4 separate regions of the Homo sapiens genome follow, and all the other regions are reported to be linked to region 2. The links are microRNA targets in miRTarBase. Many come from high-throughput screens and were not tested one by one. Region 2 holds a microRNA gene; each other region holds the end of a gene's coding sequence.

Region 1 (5,153 bases), not on the chromosome of region 2:
TGGGTCACACCTGTAATTCCAGCACTTTGGGAGGCCAAGGAGGGCTAATCACTTGAGGTCAGGAGTTCGTGACCAGCCTGGTCAACGTCACAAAACCCTGTCTCCACTAAAAATACAAAAATTAGTCAGGTGTGGTAGCATGCGTCTGTAATCTCAGCTACTTGAGAGGCTGAGGAAGGAGAATCATATGAACCCAGGCAGTGGAGGTTGCAGTGAGCTGAGAATGCACTGGTGCACTCCAGCCTGAGCAACAGAGTGAGACTGAGTCTCAAAAAAAAAAAAAAGAATGCCTATCATGCCTATCAGCAGGTGAATGGATAAACAAATTGTCTATGTCCATACAATAGAACACTCAGCAATACAAAGGAGCAAACTTTTGATAAATCCAACAACATGGATGAATCTCCAAATAATTATGCTGACTTAAAGAGGCCCAGACAAAAAAGTTTATAGTATATGATCCTGATTATATAAAAATTTTGAAAATGCATACTAGTGACAGAGCAGATTAGTGGCTGCCTGGGATTGACTACAACAGGCCATGAGGAAACGTTAGGAAGTGATGGTGATAGGTAGTTGATTGCCGTGATGGTTTCATGAGCATATGCAAGTGTCAAGAGTCACCAAATTGAACATTTTATGTATGCTCAGTCAATTATACCTCAATAAATCTTTTTGTAAAACCCAAGGTCATCAGGCCCATAAGTAGCATTTCCACCACAGGGCTCTCTATCAGCTCCATGGGTGATTCAATCAAGTGTTCTCAATGGGAATTATCCAAATACATAAAAAGCACCCAATGTTAATTTGCCAGCAAAATGCAGATGTCCCACCTTTCAGTATAAATCTTTCCTCTTATCAAACTCCTGGGGAGAAAATTAAGTCTACATATTAAGTTACCTTTCAAGTTAATGTCCAAAGACCAAAATAATCAAAACCCAGAATCAAATTCTCTCACTGTAATAAGGTAAAAGTTCAATAAAATTAAAGCCCTTCCCAGTTTCTTATTGGATTCACTCACAGGCAGAAATGTTCTTAATGCCTCTCAGGATTCCTTCAGCAGCTGCAGCCTGGCTGTCTCTTTTTGGATATGGATACAACACATTCATTTGGCACTTCAGAAGTTAAATTAGTTCAATAACTCTATGGTGTGCCTCAACTTACAAAAGGTCTGGAGAGTCAATAAAACACCCAAGGTAATTACAATACTTGCCTTATACCCACCAAATTTAAAAGGCAGTTATCCTGTACAAAATTATGCTCCCAAAACTCAGTAGTATTTATTGCCAAAGACTACATGTAGCAGAAACTCTATAGCAGGAACTCATGAATCAGTAGGAAGGAAGATAACCGGTGATGGCTTTAGCCTTATCAGAATGCCAGTCACATGAGCTGCACACTTAAACTAAGTTGGAAGAAATTTGTCAGCAACAAGTTAAACTTTTCACCATGCATTTAGCATGGTACTCTATCTTCTCTTTCAGAAAGTGACATCTGAAACACTGATGCTATCTTACCAAGTATAGAATTTGGAGTGGTCCAGTCCCAATCACCAAGTCAAAGGAGACCTGATCTTTTCCCAGTATGTTCAAATATCTTCAGATTCAAAATTTTCTCTTTTACACAGCATTTCAATGACTCTCAGAACAATTTAGACCTTGAGCTTTTCTAGAACTTTATATTGCAACCAAGGCACATGTCTTTAAAAGTAGCAAATACTGATACAGTCATTAACATCTAGCATAGCTATGAATATTTCTTCTTATATCATTAAATCCTTGCCACGAATAAAATTGTTTTCTGGTGTCGAGTTAGCAGCATCTGATGAGTGAGGCCTTTGCTGCTCACACATGCATATTTAATGTAGGCCAAGGTCAAGCTGCAGTAGCCTGCATGAGACCACTTGCACATGCCAGTGCCTTTGTTGATGCCAGCACCACTACAGTAGCTTGCTAAGCCTCACCTTGGGCTGGCATCTGGTGAGGACATCCATGAGGCCAGCATTTGGGTGAGCCCCACTTCCAGATTCTCTGTCTTTGCTGAAGCCAATATGTCTCCATCACCCTCACTCAAACTCTGCTTCATTGAGGCCTGCGCATATGTGCTTAAAGCCCAGTATTGCACATTGTCTCTATAGAAATTACCAATTTCTCTGGACAAAGATATCCTAAACTTTTAGGTCAAAATCCCACGTGCCTTAAGTCTTAAAGCCTCTTGCCAAAACTGCAACTAAAAGCCTACTTCACACTTACAAAGTCAAATTAATAGCCCTAATAGAAGCCTCTACAAACTACCAAGATCAAAGCTCCCTACGTATACATTAAGGTCTGAAACCAGAAACCATAAGCTATGGCCACAATTAAGCCTCTCTCTTTCTATGTTGTGCTCCTTCAAATTTTATTCCTCTTTTATTTCTTGATGTACTAACCCATATAGCACAAATTTCTATATATATTTTCCAAAAATATCCATCCCCCTTCTAACATTTATCAATATAGCCTGTTCTTCACTTATAGTATTAGAATAGCAATTAAGAGTACATGCACTCTGCTGACAGCCCAGGTCCTCCTCCCAGACATCATTTATTACTTTACCTCCCCTGGGTGGAACAAGTGGGACAAGAAGTAAAGATACCATGAGTGTTTGGATGATGGTGTCTTCTCCACATGGAAGGAAACAATAGGGAACCGATAGGAACTATTACCTCCATCAATAATAATATATTCTAACTACTTATTAGATATTTAAATAATACCAAGCTTGCTTCCCTTTGTAACTTTCCTCATGCTCTTACACTTCTAATCTTTTTAACCTCGAAGGCTTTCCTTAAATGCTATTGCACACATGAAACTTTCTCTGATTTCTTAAACCAAACAAAACCTCTTTCTTCTCTGAGGCCCTGGTCCAACATTTTTTAAGTGTGGCGAGGAGCAACCCAGCAGAATCACTGGGGTTGCCTGTTAAAACATCCATTACTAAGCCCATCTACAGTATCCAAATTCCTTAGTGTAGGGTCCTCAAACATGCCTCTTAAGAAGCCTATAGGCCAGGCACAGTGGCTCACACCTATAATCTCAGCACTTTGTACGGCCAAGGTTGAGCCATAAGGATCCCTGAGGCCAGTTCAAAACCAGCCCAGGCAAGGCTGAACTTGGCAAGACCTCATCTCTACAGAAAATGTTAGCCAGGTGTTGGCACGTACATGTAGTCCCAGCTACTCGTGAGGCTGAGCAGGATAACTTGAGCCCAGGAGTTTGAGGCTGCTGTGAGCCATGATCACACCACTGCACTGCAGCGTGGGCGGGAGACTGTCCACCACCAAGATAATAAAAAAAAAAAAAACGAAAAAGGAAAAGCTTCCTGGGTGCTTCATTGATAACACTAAAATCTTAACCTTTTGCTTTATCTGATTGTCACTGATTACTTTTTCCCCCATTATACCATTACTTGGCATTTATTCCTCTACAAGAACTTTGGAATTTTAAAGAGTAACTCCTTAATATAAGTTTTGCATAAAGTAGCTTTTAACAAAGTCGTTAAAATGAATATAATTTGACTTTCACTTGTCTCTCAAAAGGACTAGATCTCCTTCCATGTTTTGTCATGATTAAGTGTCTAGAAGTGAAAATGCACAAAAATTGTAAAGCAATTTACTGAAATAATTTATCCTCCATCATGATGTGATGTGTCTTCACCAATGTAGCCAAATTTAGGCTTTCTGGGCTGCTTACTTTAAATGCAATATAGTGCAATGCAAATTTCTAAAGCATTGCTTTTCTATGCAATGAAGATTAAGTTCAGTGTTATCTAAGCACTTTCTACTGATCTTGAAATGCAGAATAAATTAGTAGACTGAAAGAGCTCCCTAAAATCTTAATGCAATTTCAGACTGTATTTGCTATCATTTATAAAATTTTATTATTCAATATTTGGCAAGTATTATTGGTCAGCCCTTTTTGCTTACAATGACTATATATATATTTCAAGCCTTTCTCATTCTTCTGCAATTTGCAAAGCATGAGAAGCAGTTATCCCAGTGGCTTATCTCAGCTCACAAGGGTACCAACAAGGGAGACAGAGATAATGTTCTTAAAGTATAGGGTCCATAGGAACTGGAAAGCTTAATTCTTGCTGTGACACTGTGGGGTTTCCATCATTATTTAAAAGACCTTAGACTAACAAGCCATGTACATCCATTTAAGGGAATGTTTATAAATATCAGACTTTGAGTTCACTGCTTTGTGAAGGTCGCTTTGTTATATGGTGAGGGCAGTTTATTTCAGCACCCATCACCCTGTAACATGTACTTAAAATAAATAAAAAGTCCAAGAGGAGTCTTTGCCTCCCTCATCATTAAAATAAATTTTAAAACAACGTAACTGTTTACTAAATTGAAATATTTCATTGAAATGCTTCATTGATAGCTCTGATTCCTTATTTTTAAAAAATTTATTTCATATAAATCTCATATGGTACAAAAGTATTACATGCTTGGGCCTGTCTTGCAAAATAAGAGGTTCTTTCAGTTCTTCAGGCCAACCTTCCTTCAGAGGCAAATAAATAAGAAACATGTAGAACATATTTAGAAAATTTTTTACCATAATAAAAATATGTGAACATCTTATATTTAGCATAGTTTAGCAATCCAGTTTATGTCGACAAATTTAGTTCACTGCTGGGAGGCACATGTCACAGAAGAACCTAATAGGCAGCAGATATTTTAACCTGTAGGAACAAAATGTTTAACATTTTTCTTGTATTTTTTGAAGAAGGTACTCCATTTGTACATTCAAGTTTGGTTGGCCCTTTTTAGTCTTTTTGTTCAGTATTTTAAACACTTCCATTTTCTTCTTTTTGTACTGCCTTTGGGCTTCTTCTCTCTCCTGTTTTCTCCTCTCGAATTCCTAAAATTATTAACATATGTAACTTTCATTAGCAACAAACAGTAGATACAGTTCAGAAATTGTCTTGAAATAGCTATTACTAAGCAAACACTCTAAGGTTTGTCTCTTCTATTTTGCAAGATGTGCACTGTTTCTCCTAATTGAAGCAAAGTACCCTCTTTGCCTTCATATTATAATGACCCATGGTATAACAGAGAATTTTCATGATCACAAAGCCCCAGCTCTATATAAACAAAATTTTAAAAGGAC
Region 2 (5,153 bases):
CACACCTGAGGAGAACCCTACTCCCCGTGAGGAAACCCTCACGCTTGCTATTCGGGTGGCTCTGTGGTCACCCCCATCTAAGGCTCTGAGCGGTGACTTGCCCCACATCATGGAGCGGGGGAGGGTCCCCCTGGGGTGGAGGCTTCCCCAGTGCACGTCTGCGGGCCCATGCTCCCTGACCTGAGGGACACCCCAGCCCGACATCCGAACACCTCCGCTGCAGCCCAGGCCTGATGTCCCCTTGACTGAGGACATTGGGGGTGAAAGGATCATCCCGCTCCACATGAGGCCAGACGCTCATCTCTGGAATGTTCCTGAAACCTCAGGAGCCCTGAGGCTTCTGCGGGACTCTGGGGCGCTGTTTCTAAACCCAGGGTGGTGGAGTCTGCTGAGCCACCATACAAGCATTTCTGGGGTCCCTGTGGAAGCTTCCAGAACCTCAGATCCAGCGAACCTCATGGGGTTGGGATGTGGGAGGAGTGTGGAGCCAGGCGTGGTCTGCAGCCTTCTCCCCGCCTCAGGCACCTCTAGGAACTCACGTGTCCAGATCGGATGGCTCCTCAAAATGGCTGGGGTGGGGTAGGGTGCCCTTTCTCTTTTTCTCCCCTCTTTCCGCCTTGCAGTGAGAAACCAGCCTGCGCTGTGGTGTGTGGGCTGTCAGGCCGGCTGAGAGCTGGTGCCCTGCCTTTCAGTTCAGGGCTGTGGGGACCTTCCAGGGTCCCCTGGGTGGGAATGCCAGGCCTGGGGCAGCGAGCCTTGGAGGAGCCTCTGGGCCTGAACCTCAGCCTGGCAGCTCTCTGCCTGGCAGCATTGCAAGTCTAGTTTTCAGATCTCCTCTTCCTTCACGTGAGGGGCCCTTCGTGTTTTTCTCATCTGAGAGTTGAAAGCCAGAGCCCCCGACCCTCCCGTGGAGCCCCACACTGGAGTCTGGAGCAGCAGTGGGAGAAGGGCCGGGCGCCGGCCGTAATGAGAAACAGCCGACCTGTGAAAGGGGCCCTGTGTGAGCCCCAGACACAAAGCAGGCTCCATTCAGGAGGGGGCAGCCATGGAACCTGACCCCCGCCACCACCCAAGTTAGGATCCCAGCAGGGACCCTTGGAGTCACACACGTGGCAGCCACCCCTGAGGAGGAGGCCACCCTCTTAGATGCCTCAGTGAGACACAAGACATCAATATCTCTTTATTTAAAAAATAAACAAGACATTTACAGCCATGGGGTGGGGATGGCAGACTGATAGGGCCAGGGCCTCCAACCCCTCGGCCGGCCTCGGGGCTCCCTCTGCCTTTCCCCAGTGCCTCTTCTCCCACCCAGGCCCTCGAATCTTCTATGCGAGGCTCTGCCACAGTGGGAAACGGGGTGGTGGAAAATGACACTCACCTGCCGGCGAGTTTGGGGGGCCTGTCTCGACGAGCCGCTCACCCAAGCCCAGCCTAACCAATGTGCAGACTACTGTACACATTGAGAGCCTCCTGAACAGGTAGTCTGAACACTGGGTTGGCGGGGCCGGCTATCCATCCTGCAGAACCCCCCAGGCAGACGCTGGGGCCACCAGGCCAGGCCGTGCCTCAGCACCTCTGAGCAGCCAAGGAAACCACCACTCTTCCCGAGACGATCCGCTCTGTCCCTTCTGACGTGGCAAGGCTGGGGCCGGCTCGCATCTGGAGAAAGTTCTGGGTTTTCAGGAAATCCTAAAGAGTGGGGGAGGCGGAGCAGGAGGCAGGGTTTGGGATCGTGGCTTCTGGGCTCAGGAGGAATGTCTGACTCTTTGGGGGTCGGGGGTGGGGAGGAGGGGCGCACACACACGTGTGTGTGTGTGTGTGCGCGCGCGCGCACGCGTGCGTGCCGGCAGCACCAGGAAGGCGGCCACTGATTTCTCGGCGGAATCGCACTGTAAACAGTTCCAGATGTGGCATTAGCTGGAATGGCCTGTGACTCAGTTACTTGGCCCTGCTGGCTGGAAGCTTCCGGCCGCGTGATATGATAGGGTCAGGGCAGCAAAGGCCCTTGGGCAAACGTCCGAGCCGGGGGCAGGGCTTCTGCAGAGCCCCCTCCCCTAGCCCCTTCTAAAGCCCCCAAAACTCTTCCCCGAAAGGTGGGAGGGACCCAGGCCCTGTGTTACCCAGCCTTGCCTGGGATGACGGGTGCAGGCTTTCTTCATCACCTTCCCTCCCTTGGGTCCGCAGCGGCATCCCTCCCTCCATGGCCACCGGGCCCCTCTCCTATGCTCTGCTCCCTCCATGGCCACCGGGCCCCTCTCCTATGCTCTGCTCCCTCCATGGCCACCGGGCCCCTCTTCCTATGCTCTGCCCTACTTCTTTGCCTAGAGCCTGGCAGGCTAATCCTGGAGCCGCTCACAAGAGCAACCAAAGAAAATCCCGGGTGCTCATGGGCACCAGCTCTGCAGTGGGCACCAAGCTCCTCCATCCTCCTTGGATAGATGAGGAAACTGAGATGAAATGGGAGGTGGCGGGGAAGTGGCTTGCCCGAGGGCACACGGCCAGGAAAGGGCAGGGCTGGCATCACCTCAACCATGCTGAGCTCCTAACGCCCTGAGGCTGAGCCCATGTGCCAAGCCCACTGCTTCATCCTGGCTCCCCTTGCAAAGTCCTGACAGTCCCAGCTGGCCCCCACTTGCCAGGGAGCCCCCGCTGCCTTCTCCACAGTCACTGTGGCTGCTCCTGAACTTGGAGGCGGCAGCCAGGTTAGGCTTTGTGCTGGGGCAGCGCAGTGAGGGGACATGAGAGGAGTTTCCAGAGACGGCCCAGGGAGAAGAAGGGCCAGGGGCACTGTGGGGAGGACTGGGCTTTGGGTCACAGAGACCTGGCCTCTGAAGTCCTGCTGTGGCTTGCGCTGCCTGCCGTGTGGCCTTCGGCAGCCAGCTTCCCTCTCTGAGCTAGGAGGGATCCGTGAACTGAGACCAAGCAGTGCATGGCATGGGTCCCCAAGAGCTGCTGCTGTGGCGGGTGGGCACACACATCACTGGGTGAGTGTGGGACTCCAGGGTGCCACCCCCAGCTCCGTGACTCGCCAGCCCCTTGCCCCTGGCCGAGGGGCCCACCTCTGAGCTGCCTCCCTAGCAGTCTGGACAGCCGTGGCTGGCACTTGGTGCTTCCTGAACAGGGCCAACCTTAGAAAGCAAGTGATAGGGCAGGTGCGGTGGTGCACACCTGTAATCCCAGCACTCTGGGAGGCTCGCTTGAACCCAGGAGTTTAAGACCAGCCTGGGCAACATAGCGAGACCCCATCTCTATTAAAATAATGATAATGATAATAATAAAGAAAGGGAGTAAGGCTTCTGCAGCACCTGGCCCAGGACCTATCCAGCCCCAAGATGTCCTAAAGCGGCCAAGGTTGAAATCCCAGCCCTGCTCCTCTCTGCCTCAGTCTTCCCCTCTGTAAAATGGCATCACAGAGGTAACTCACTCCTAGGCTCGTTTCAAAGATGGAGCCCAGATAAAAGTTCCATTCACTTCGTGCAAGGCGAGGGGCAGTTGTGTTGTGCGTGCCGTCAGCCACATGTCAGCAGTGAACTCAACAGGAGTCCCTGCCCTGGAGAAACTTGAGTCAGTCCAGTGGCAGTCAGCCACCTAGGTCAATAAGCACAGGCAGTCAGGCACCTAGGTCAACAAGCGCAGGATACGTGACGTGTTGTGTGAGGGAAAAGGAGGATGGAGGTGGGGAGGGTGCGGGTAGAGTTAGGGCAGGAGGGAGCCATGCAAGTGTCAGGATCAGGCAGTAGCCCGGTCGTCCGAAGGCCCTGGGGTAGGAACCCAGGTGGGATACTCAGGGAGCATCATGGAGGGCAGCGTGGCTGGGACAGAGTGACGGACGGGGAAGGGCCGGCAGATGGGCTCATATACAGCAGCGACCAGCATTGAGAAGCCCCCGGGGCTGGTGGTGGCGCATGCTACACGCTCTGGCCTGGGGCATCCTGAGTTGTCACGTGGACCGCTCAGGGTGACTCTTTTCCCTCCACCCTCAGGAGAAAGAGAAGAAGTACATGCTGCCTCTGGACAACCTCAAGATCCGTGATGTGGAGAAGGGCTTCATGTCCAACAAGCACGTCTTCGCCATCTTCAACACGGAGCAGAGGTGAGGGGCCCAGGGGCCTGGGGATGGCTCGGGGTGAAGACCAATGGCCTCATTCACACTCCACAACCTTCACTGAGCACTGAGCACCTGGCTGTCAGCAGTCCCTGCCCTTGGGACCCAGCTTTTAGAAAGGGGAGTCACGTGAGAAATAGCAAATGCCAGGGATGCTTCCCGTGCTGGGTCAGAGATGACCTCTCTGGGCAGAGATGAGGATGAAGGCAGGCTCCGAGTCAGTGGGAGCCATGGAGAGTTCTGAGCACAGGGTGACCAGGACCTGGCTCAGGTGCTTGCAGGAGCCCTCTGGTGGCTGAGAGGGAAACAGTATGAGAGGGTGAGAGATGGGGGACGAGGGCAAAGGCCGCTGCCTTGTCCAAGTGGGCGATGATGGGGCCAGAACCCATAGGGAAGGAGGGTGCAGATTCTGGGTAGAAGAGTCAGGCGGAGCCCTGGTGGGCATGGATATGAGAGAGAAAGGCACCAATTGTGACCCTGAGTACGTGGGCCTGAGCTCCTGCACTGCCCAGCTGCTGCCATTGGCCGAGGTGGGGAAGGCAGCGGCAGGTAGGCCTGGAGACAGCCAAGAGCTCCATTTAGGCCATGCCAAGGGAGAGGGTGCATCAGGGAGGCACCTGGGTAGATCGAGGAGTGTGATGTCCAGGAACGAGCTCCAGTCTGGGATGTGAACTGGGCAGTCACCATTGCGTGGATGGTATTTCAAGGAACGAAACCAGATGAGCTCCCAGGAGAGTGAAGCTGGAGAATGGGAGGCCCCAGGAAGCTCACAGTACATCTGTCCCATGAGGCGTAGCTGGAGACTTTAGCAGAGACACTGCTCTCAGGAAGAAACCCAGCTGGCAGGAGGGCTCTTCCCATGCTCACACAATCACGCTCATCCAGGAAGCAGGGCCCACCTGAGTCAGGGATTAGCTGTCAGTAAAGGCCCGGTGGTACCCTGAGACCTGTAGGCAGGCACTGACGTCCTCCCTGCTGGCCCCAGAACCTCCTTGCCTACTGCTTGGCTACACCCACCAACTCCAGCTGAGTCTCCTGGTTCCCTCCT
Region 3 (5,153 bases), not on the chromosome of region 2:
AGCTGTGGAGCAGACGCAGCTGCTGTCCCTTTGTCATTTACGGGGAGGGGATTATTGACGTTGTTACTCTGTAGGTTTTAAGGATTTCAAGTCATCAGTGTCTTCCAGCTAAGGTCAGATGTGCTGCTGATGACCCAGAGGGCTTGCAGGGTGACGTCTCTCTGCTGGGGGAGGCCTCGGGGTCTTTCCTGTGCTGCTGGGTGGTGTCTCCCTGTCCTGTGACCCAGTGTGTTTTCTTCATAATGAGCATTCATTGCATTTGGGACAGTACAGTGGAGATTACCGCTGCTCCCAAGGGTGGGCCCAGTGAGGGTGTTGCTCCCACCTCAGTCCACATCAGCTCTCTCCAAAGTCTTATCTAAATAGACGGTGTCACTAGAACTTTTTGGTTGTATTGCCTAGTAATTTTTTGTTTTTGTTTTTTAAACAGATTATTTTCGAAATACCAGTATTTCGACTCCAGGGGGATGTTCATTTCTATAGTATTTTCAGCCCCACTGCTGGTGAATGCCATGATCATTGTGGTACGTAGATGACACTTTCAGTTGTCTTTCTTCATGTGTATGTTTTTCAAATCTAAACATGTCTCAAACAATTGTGTTTAGGTTATGTGGGTATGGAAGACTTTGAATGTGATGACTGACCTGAAGAATGCACAAGAGAGAAGAAAGGAAAAGAAAAGGAGAAGGAAAGAAGACTGAGGGGCAGCAGCTGCTTGGAGTTTGCGTCCTTCCCGTCCACCCAGTGCAGCTCCCAGTGCTGCAGTGTGCGTGGCGTGGGCATCCTTCCAGCTGACTCATGGTTTGAAAAACCGTTGTTTTATTTAAATATCCACAGTGGTAGGGCACACACTGAAGTTGGCTTTTCAGCCAGCACTGAATGTATCCATCAGGACATGCGTCTTCAGGTGCCTGATCTTTGTAGTCAGGCTGTGGGAACGGTCTCTGCAGAGCTTCATAACTGGGAATTTGATTTGAAGAAGTCCATGTCATATGTGTAACTAGTACTAATTATAAATATAAAATACACAATATAAAATATGAAACTCAATAATAAACAGTGCCACCTGTACATGGGCACCATGCCCTCCTCCTCGTGCTGTGTTTTCTAGTGCATGCCACAGTTCGCAGTAGAGGGTGTTTTCACCTTCCAAGACATGGGGCAAAGTTTGGAGACACCTGGTTGTCACTGGAGGGGGTGGTGCTCCTGGCTTCTCCTGTGGAGCCCGGGGTGATGCATAAAATCCTGTGTGCCTGGGTCAGCCGCATCACAGACAATGACTTGACATGAAATGTCAGCTGTGCTGGGGCAGAGAGACCTTGGAAGGAAGCTCTTGGAAAATACGTTGTATCTCAGTTTGATGAACCAATTCACAAGAGGCTAGGCCCTCTCTAGCAAAGTTATGGGCTGCTTTACTGAAAACAGAATGGAAGCCCTGAAGTCAACACTCCATGGAGAAGCGTGTCTTTCCTAATGTCCTGGTGTTCTGTTGATTTAGGTGCTTGGGAACACAATGCTCCCAGTTCTGTTAGGACAGGCATACTGTTACTTTGCAATATCCACTTTATAAAATAGCTCCTGCCCAGTGGCTCTTGGTTCCTGTCAAATGTGGACCTGTAGTTTAAGAATGACAGGTGGTTAGAGACCCAGATATTTAAAAATAGGTGTTCAATAAGGGAATACTGATTGTGCATTGTATCTGGATAGCATGCCTAATTGTGCATTTCTGAAAGTTACCAATTCAAAATGTAATTGGAACAGTTATCTTTGATTAGACAAGCCTGGGAAGAGAATGTTGAGGTGCAGAGCTCACCAGCCAAGTTCATGCCCCTCTCGGGCCTTTGTGGCTGAGAAGTGGGACAGAAAGATGATTAAGGTAATGTGTCCTCCCTGTAGCATTGTCCAGGGCCGTTGTGTAGATATTTGACTTCACTGACAGAAAAGAAACCAGGGAGTTTGTAGAGACTGTGCATTTTTAGTATAACATTTTCACCATCTGATATGGTTTGGCTTTGTGTCCCCACCCAAATTGCATCTCAAATTGTAATCCCCATGTGTCAAGGGAGGGACCTGATGGGAGGTGATGGGATCATGGGGGTGGTTTCCCCTATGTTGTTATCATAATAGAGAGGGAGTTCTCACAAGATCTGCTGGTTTTAAAGACAGCAGTTTCCCCTGCTGTCACTGTCTCTCTCCTGCTGCCTTGTGAAGAAGGTGCTTGTTTCTCCCTCTGCCATGATTGTAAGTTTCCCGAGGCCTCCCCGGCCATGTGGAACTGAGTCAATTAAACTTCTTGTTTATAAAGTAATCCAGGTCTCAGGTAGTATCTTTATAGCAGTGTGAGAACAGACTAATTAAACATCTATATGTTATTTGGACTTAATATGGGGCCGTGTGATTGAATCTCAGTTTGCCTGTGATAAAGTAGTGTAACAGTATTGCTAGCTTTGCATGAATTTGATGCTGATGACATGTCAGTGTGAAACCATGACGTGTGGTCTTTGATTTTCATTCTGCATGTGTGTGTCTGTGTTTTGGAACAGTTATATTTTGGTTTTGTAAAAACAACCTTCACTTTATTTTTAACTGTGTAGTAAGTTTATATTCAATGCCTTAAAGTGCATTGTTAACAATTGTCTTGATATGTTGTCCTCATTTTAGGGAAAGTCATAGAAGCCAAAATGATCAGCAGTTGAGTAATTTACGAAAGCACAGGTGCAATCCCACTTTAAAGCACTGGGGGTTGCACAGAGCACACTGGTTTCAGGCTCCATAAATGTGGATGACTCACTGGAGAGCTTCATCTGTTTAAGTAGAACAAATGTTTTTACTCTACTGATAAAGTACAGGAAAGGAGGTTTGGGATCAAAATTATTTTTCACATTCCAAACCTGTGACACCTTACGTTTATCGATTGCTATGCAATAAAATACATCTTTAATAATATGTAGTATTTTTTTTTGTTTTTTTCAAAAAAATGGTATTTGTTTTGCACCTTACTGTAACTGGAAACAGGAGCACCTGGAACTTAGCTCCACCTTTGGCTGGCAGGTCCCTTTGCTGCAGCATCTGGTGCTGAGTTTTAACAAACAAATGCAATTGTGTCCTTGCCAGTAGAAGAAAGTCTACTTGCACAGATAATGTATATCAAATCAGAAAGCAATATGCAACCTGAATGGCTAGCTTCTGTGAGAAGTAAAGTGGCAAGGAAATGTTAACATGTTCTTGCCCTTTACAAAATAATAAATGTTAAAAAAAAAAAAAAAGGGCTGGGGGTGGAATTCAGGGTAAGGAGCTTCAGTGGCGCGAAGTTGAGTGGGATGCTTAAAGACAGACGAGAATTGCCGTCAGAGATATACCGGTCAGGCCCAAGCATCTTTTCCCTGGAAAAGAACTTCAGGCTTCCTTGTCTGGATTTCAGTGGAGCACCCTTCTTCTTTCACCAAGTTAACCAGAACATGTTTTCAGTGCAGCCTTCCCCTCTTTACTGAAGCCCCTCTTGCTGGTCGACTACACCAGCAAGTCGGTCCTGGGGAGGACGGGGCTGGGCTCCACATGCAGAGTTCTCGGAGGCAGGAAGGGAGCGAGCCAGGGCAGAGAAGAGCACCCAGGGGGTGGCGCTGCCCAGTCCCAGGATGGTGCGAAGATGTCTCCAAGCCCTGGTTGCTGCACAGGGAAGGCAGGATGGGGCGGCGAGGCCCACGCAGGCTGTGGGTGCCATGCGTTGGTGGCAGCTTGTTCCGAGTGGGGCTGGAACAGTTGACAGCAAGCATCCTCATCGGCCTGGTAAGCTTTCTAGCTCCTCTTCCTCCGATGTTCCAGTTTCACAGCGGCCTGTACAGTTAGATCTTTCCTCGCTTTGGGGGAAGGTGTAGCTATTATAGTCTCCGAATCATGCTGTCATTAGAAATTGCACAAGACCTATGCCAGGGGAGGCGCTGACTGGCACAGGCCCTGAAAGGAACCTGAGGACAGAGAAGGAGCTCCCTGCAGCCTTCAGGCAGCCAAGCAGAGGCCTAAGTCCAAGCATGTGGCCATAGGGTCTGCTCTGTAAGCCTCAGGGCTACTGCCTTCTGCTCCAGTCCTGGGCCAAAACACCCTTCAGCAGCTCCTGCTCCATCTGAGCGAGCTGGATGTCAGCCTCCATGGGCCCTGTTGTGCATGGGGTTGATGCTTCATCTGAGTGAGCTGGGCATCTGCCTCCATGGGTCCTGTTGTGTGTAGGGTTGATGCTCCATCTCAGTGAGCTGAGCATCTGCATCTCGGGGTTCTGTTGTACATGGGGTTAATACTCCATCCGAGTGAGCTGGGCATCCGCATCTCTGGGTTTTGTGTGCGTGGGGTTAACACTCCATCTGAGTGAGCTGGGTGACTGCCTCCATGAGTCCTGTTGTGTGTGGGGTTGATGCTCCATCTGAGTGAGTGGGGCATCTGCATCTCTGTGTCCTGTTGTGTGTGGGGTTGATGCTGCATCTGAGTGAGTGGGGCATCTGCATCTCTGGGTCCTGTTGTGTGTGGGGTTGATGCTCCATCTGAGTGAGTGGGGCATCTGCATCTCTGGGTCCTGTTGTATGTAGGGTTGATTCTCTATCTGAGTGAGTGGGGCATCTGCATCTCTGGGTTCTGTTGTATGTGGGGTTGTTGCTCTGAGTGAGTGGTGCATCTGCATCTCTGGGTTCTATTTTATGTGGGGTTGATTCTCTGAGTGAGTGGGGCATCTGCATCTCTGGGTTCTAGTTTATGTGGGGTTGATTCTCTGTCTGAGTGAGTGGGGTGTTTGCATCTCTGGGTCCTGTTGTATGTGGAGTTGATTCTCTATCTGAGTGAGTGGAGCATCTGCATCTCTGGGTCCTGTTGTATGTGGGGTTGATTATCTGAGTGAATGGGGCATCTGCATCTCTGGGTTCTAGTTTATGTGGGGTTGATTCTCTATCTGAGTGAGTGGTGCATCTGCATCTCTGGGTTCTATTTTATGTGGGGTTGATTCTCTATCTGAGTGAGTGGGGTGTCTGCATCTCTGGATCCTGTTGTATATGGGGTTGATTCTCTATCGGAGTGAGTGGGGCATCTGCATCTCTGGGTTCTGTTGTATGTGGGAGTGATGCTCCATCTGAGCTGGGCGTCTGCATCTCTGGGTTTATGGATCCCTAAGC
Region 4 (5,127 bases), not on the chromosome of region 2:
CCACCATTCCCAGTTAATTTTTTTTTTCTTTCTTTTTTTTTTTTTTGGTACAAAGAGTTTCGCCATGTTTCCCAGGCTGGTCTCAAACTCCTGGGCTCAAGTGATCTGTCTGCTTTGGCGTCCCAAAGTACTGGGATTACAGAAGTGAGCCACCATCCCTTGTCTATTTTAGTATTTTTTAATGTGGCTACTGGAAAACAAAATTACATGAGGCTTGCATATTTCCATTGGACAGCACTGTTCTAGAACTGTAAAATACAATATTTGAATTCAGAGAGGTGAAAATACTAAAATTAATTAATAAATTAATAAGATTCCAGGATGCTACTAGGTCAATATACAAAAATCAGTTGCATTTCTAACCCTAGCAACAAACAATTAGAAAATAATTTTTTTTTTTTGAGACAGAGTCTCACTCTGTTGCCCAGGCTGGAGTGCAGTGGCATGATCTTGGCTCACTGCAACCTCTACTTCCTGGGTTCAAGTGATTCTTGTGCCTCAGCCTTTCCAGTAGCTAGAATTACAGGTGCACACCACCACTCCTGGCTAATTTTTGTATTTTCAGTAGAGATGGGTTTTCACCATGTTGGCCAGGCTGGTCTCGAACTCCTGACCTCGAGAGATCCACCCACCTCGGCCTCCCAAAGTGCTGGGATTACAGGTGTAAGCCACTGCGCCTGGCTGGAAAATAAATTTTTAAAAGGCCATTTATAATAGCATAAAACTCAGACTTTCAAGAATAAACTTAATAAAAGGCTAAGCTCTATGCACTGAAAGCTGTAAACATTGCTGAGAGCAGCTAAAAAAGAACTAAATGAAGAAATGTTTCTGGATTGTGCAGATGTCAATTTTTGAGAAATTAATCTATAGATATATACTATCCCAATGGAAATTCCAGGAAACTTTTGTAAAAATTGACAAGCTGATTTTAAAATGTATATGAAAATGGAAATGTCCTATATTAGTCAAGACATTCTTGAAGAATAAAGTTGGGGGACTTACCCTGATTTCAAGACACAATAACACTCCAGCATTAGTCTTATTAATTTTGTTAATTTATTGTGGCATTTAGTAATTTAGTTAATTAGTGTAGTTATTAATTTAGCATGTGTTAAGATAAATAGGGCCAGGTGCGGTGACTCACACCTGTAATCCCAACAATTTGGGAGGCCAAGGCAGGAGAATTGCATTTGCCCAGGAGTTTGAGACCAGACTGGACAACACAATGAGACCATGTCTCTATAAAAAATTAAAAATATTAGCAAGGCATGGTGGCATATGCTTGCAGTCCTAGGTACTTGGGAGGCTGAGGCAGGAGGATCACTTGAGCCCAGGAGTTTAAGACTGCAGTGAGCTATGACTGTACCACTGCACTCCAGCCTGGGTGACAGAGGGGACCCTGTCTCTAAAAATAAATACATAAATAAAAATAAAAATAAATTAGATTGCCTCTGGGAGGAGGGGATTCTGGACTAGAAGTAATTAAAGAAACTTTCAGAAATGTTGGTAGAGTCTATAACTTTATTTGGCTGATGATTACAATGATATATATATACATCTGTCAAAACTCATTGATCTGTACATTTTATTTTATGTAAAATAATTGTGTAATAAAATATGTAACATAATTTTTTAATAAAAAGCAACAGAGTGGAGTAATCCTGGCATGGCAGCCCCAGCATGTTGGTTGGGAATGTAACTGTACAATGGAGAGAGATGAACTCTGCGACACACTGAGCTGAGTTTATATCCTTTCTTTACTACTTATCAGTGGTGACCTTGGGCAAATTGTTCACTCTCTGCAAGCCTTAGTTTTCTCATCTGAAAAATGGTGCTGGTGCTAGCACTTTACTTCACAGATTTGCAAGGAAGAGCTAATGAGTATAAGTAGTTAAAGTATCTAGCATGGTTTCTGGTAGTTTACAGTCCCACAGAAGAAAACATGCCCTAAGGGTAAGCGGTTATCTGCCAAGAAAAAAGGTGGACAGTGAAGGGGGAAAAAAAAGTCTTCAATTATGAGAACCTTGAAGATTTTCAGGTCTTGAAGATGCCTTTTATTGACCCTTGCTTTGGTAACATGATCTGGGAAAGTAGAATCCTTCCTGCTCTAAATCATCTACTCTTCGGAAATATATAAATTCCCCCTCTACAGTAGCAGAGCTCCACAAGAAGCCTGCCCAATTTTTCCAAAGTTATTTTTTTGATATTGGTGCCCAGATGTAGGTGGCTAAAGTGAGCAGGGAAAGCTAAGTACAGCCCTCCAGTGAAACACAGAAAGTACAAGAGTCTTGAAACAAACTCCAGATCACCCTGTGGCTCTGGGAATCAAACTTCAGAGGTCATCAGGCTGGCGCTTCTGTTATGGTTTATGTCCTGGCCAGTTATCCCATGAGACCACATCTCTTGTTCCATACAGGCACGGACCAAAGGCCTGGGTTCTGCTTGACTCCACTGCTCACTGGATGACCAAGACATGTTCCACATCTACAAACTAGAGGTAATACTGGCTTGCTTTAAAGTTGTAAGGGGAGCAACTTCCTTATGGCATATATTTATGATTTAATACTATGGTCTTTGCTATAACATTGTGGATCGGAATAAGAACTATGCGGCTGAATATGTCCATATCTTTTGTTCAACTGTAGTTGAAGATCTTGTGAGCCTGGGATTAACAGTAATGGCAAAATTTTATTTCCATCAACAGATCTGTATAATTTCTATGGTTAGAAAAAAAAACCCTATATAATTTGGCATGCTTATTGTTTTGCCTCTGTAACAAATAACTCAAATTCATATTTATTGATAAAGAGTTATTTATTTAAGAAAGATGCGTGAAAGCATCTACTCCTTCTAACTCCTTCACATAGTTTTCGGTTCTGATGTATCCTTAACTGCCTTATCATCTTACACTGAGTGTTAATCTGTAACCCCTGATAAGTCCTTGGGGGTAAGAATCTTAGAATATCTATTTATTGAGTTGTAATGGTGCTTTATATATTCTGGATACTAGACCCTTATCAGATACATGGTTTGAAAATATTTTTTCTCTTTCTGTTGGTTGTATTTTCACTTTTTTGATAATGTGCTTTGAATTATGTCTTAAATATTTTATTGTGAAAATCTTGAATTTTGATTATGTCCAACACATTTGTTTTTTTAAACAAGAATCTTAGAATATCTATATATACACGAATACACTAGACATATTAAAACATTAAATAATTTTATTCTTTTCTCATTTACAGTAGCCCAGTGGTAAGCATGTTAGAAAACCTGAAGAAATTTAAAAGTTTTTGGTTTACAAAAAGCATGTATAAAAATACCTGTTCAGACAAACAAAGATCTGATCATTACATTGCCCAGCTTTAAGAATGCCAAAAATAACTAAAATACTGTCAATCAAATGAGAGGGCTACATGGGTTTATTAAAGTTTATTTTAACAATTTTAGCTAAGCAGAATGTGCTAATGTAATTCAAGTTACAGTTACTGCCAGATAACATAAGAGAAAACATTGTGTGTGGCCACTTAAGATTATGCCTCAAACAGATACTGTTTCGTGCGCAGAACAGAGTTGGGGAACACAGCTGGGTTAAGTTTCAATGGTAAGCAGCAATAAAGATCAAGAAAATCCCCAACTTTTCTAATAACCGCTATACAATATGAAAAAAAAAATAGTATCTATCACCACCTCTTAACAATGGACATCAAAATTAGGATTGTAGGTTTTCTAAGTGCTTGGATAAAAAATGCGAACACAGTTAAGATCCTTGGTTAATTATCTTTGATTTTTCAAAACCCCCAAAACATAAAATATTTTGCTTGCTGGTGCATTAACCCATTAGCAATAACCTGAGCTATCTTTTCCTCACCAAGTATTTTGACAGTGCAAAATGTTAGTAGTCTCAGTAGACGCTGCTCACCACATTCTGTCATTGCAGCCTGATGATGAACCATGTCAGGGAGGTATCACTGCCAAGAGAAATGCACAGCAGCCTAAAAGATACATGATTCACTAGCATGCTGGAGTGTCAAAGGTAGATAGGCAGTTTTATGCAAAATGTGAAATATATAATTCAAAATGCCCACAAGCTAACAGAAAATACAGTATTGAATCTTTTAATATCAAAACAAATACTTATTTTGCTACTTTGAACAGTATTCCACATGGACAAGCAGATCGCGATGCTCAGTGGCTGGATACTGTATATTGCACTTGGGACATTCCACCAGGCTTTCATTGAGTGCAGCAGTGGGACTTTTTGGTGAGGCGGCAACTTTTTCTCTGTTTTCAGTCTCTCCTTGGAAAGTGACTAATGGCTCTGTGATGGCAAACTCATGAAGCTGTTTCTGAAAAATAAGTTTCAAATAATAGAATTTGTAAATAGGGCCAATGTTCAGCTTTTTTTTTTTCTTTTTTTGAGGCAGTCTCACTCTGTCACCCAGGCCAGAGTGTAGTGGCACAAACATGGCTCACTGCAGCCTCGACCTCCCAGGCTTAAGCAATCCTCTCACCTCAGCCTCCTAAGTAGCTGGGACTACAGGCACATGTCACCACGTCCAGATAATATTTCTATTTTTTGTAGAAATAGAAAATTCTACAAAAAATTAATTCTATGTTGCCCAGGCTGGTCTCAAACTCCTAAGCTCAAGTGATCTGCCCACCTCAGCCTCCCGAAGTGTTGGGATTACAGGCATGAACCACTGCACCCAGCCTGTTCAGCAATTTTAACTGTTCCATAAGTATTATAGCTGCTTCAGCACTGTAGACAGATTTTCTTTTGAATTTCAGCTCATCAGTATTATGAGGGTAATATATGAGGTAGTTGTGAATTTATCCAGATAACTACTGTAATTATCCAAATTACCCAGATATGGGAGTTGGGTGTATATATGAATATGTTTTATTAGGACACAGAGTCGAATATTAGGTAGGCCTATATGCAAGGCTGATTAAATTTGCTAGTTTTGTAAAACAGAGGCAACGTCAGCAATAAAGTACTACATGGAAATTAAAGGCAGCAAGCAATTTTAGCAGCTCAAACAGCTTATACACAGAAATGACTAAGATATTCTATCATACCTTTGAGACTTTCCTTTTTTGTGTTTTTTTTCTAAGAACTTGGAG

Evidence for each region. Region 2 holds the annotated microRNA hsa-miR-199a-3p (ACAGUAGUCUGCACAUUGGUUA, at 1,433-1,454, opposite strand). A microRNA usually pairs through its seed, bases 2 to 8, with sites in the 3' UTR of a target mRNA and lowers its output. Matches are read on the target gene's strand: a 7mer-m8 pairs with bases 2 to 8, a 7mer-A1 pairs with bases 2 to 7 and ends in A, and an 8mer does both.
Region 1: miRTarBase lists CCDC59 as a target of hsa-miR-199a-3p. The part of its 3' UTR that is shown has no 7-base or 8-base seed match.
Region 3: the mRNA of TMEM18 is a reported target of hsa-miR-199a-3p. Seed matches in the 3' UTR shown: 7mer-A1 at 2,833-2,839.
Region 4: the mRNA of CEP55 is a reported target of hsa-miR-199a-3p. Seed matches in the 3' UTR shown: 7mer-A1 at 3,905-3,911.

What each region holds. Positions count from the first base shown.
Region 1 is chr12:82,348,409-82,353,561 of GRCh38, forward strand. It overlaps CCDC59 (coiled-coil domain containing 59), which reads right to left. Exons shown (of 4, transcript NM_014167.5): 4 at 3,895-4,904. The coding sequence ends at 4,743. Among named protein-coding and RNA genes, the nearest start is that of CCDC59, 7.4 kb to the right of the region's middle.
Region 2 is chr19:10,815,997-10,821,149 of GRCh38, forward strand. MIR199A1 (microRNA 199a-1) reads right to left here and starts at 1,500; the gene lies at 1,430-1,500. DNM2 (dynamin 2) reads left to right here. Exons shown (of 21, transcript NM_001005361.3): 16 at 3,984-4,093.
Region 3 is chr2:665,128-670,280 of GRCh38, reverse strand. It overlaps TMEM18 (transmembrane protein 18), which reads left to right. Exons shown (of 5, transcript NM_152834.4): 4 at 431-524; 5 at 606-5,153. The coding sequence ends at 701. Among named protein-coding and RNA genes, the nearest start is that of TMEM18-DT, 9.7 kb to the left of the region's middle.
Region 4 is chr10:93,527,172-93,532,298 of GRCh38, reverse strand. CEP55 (centrosomal protein 55) reads right to left here. Exons shown (of 9, transcript NM_018131.5): 9 at 3,207-4,349. The coding sequence ends at 4,146. Among named protein-coding and RNA genes, the nearest start is that of CEP55, 33 kb to the right of the region's middle.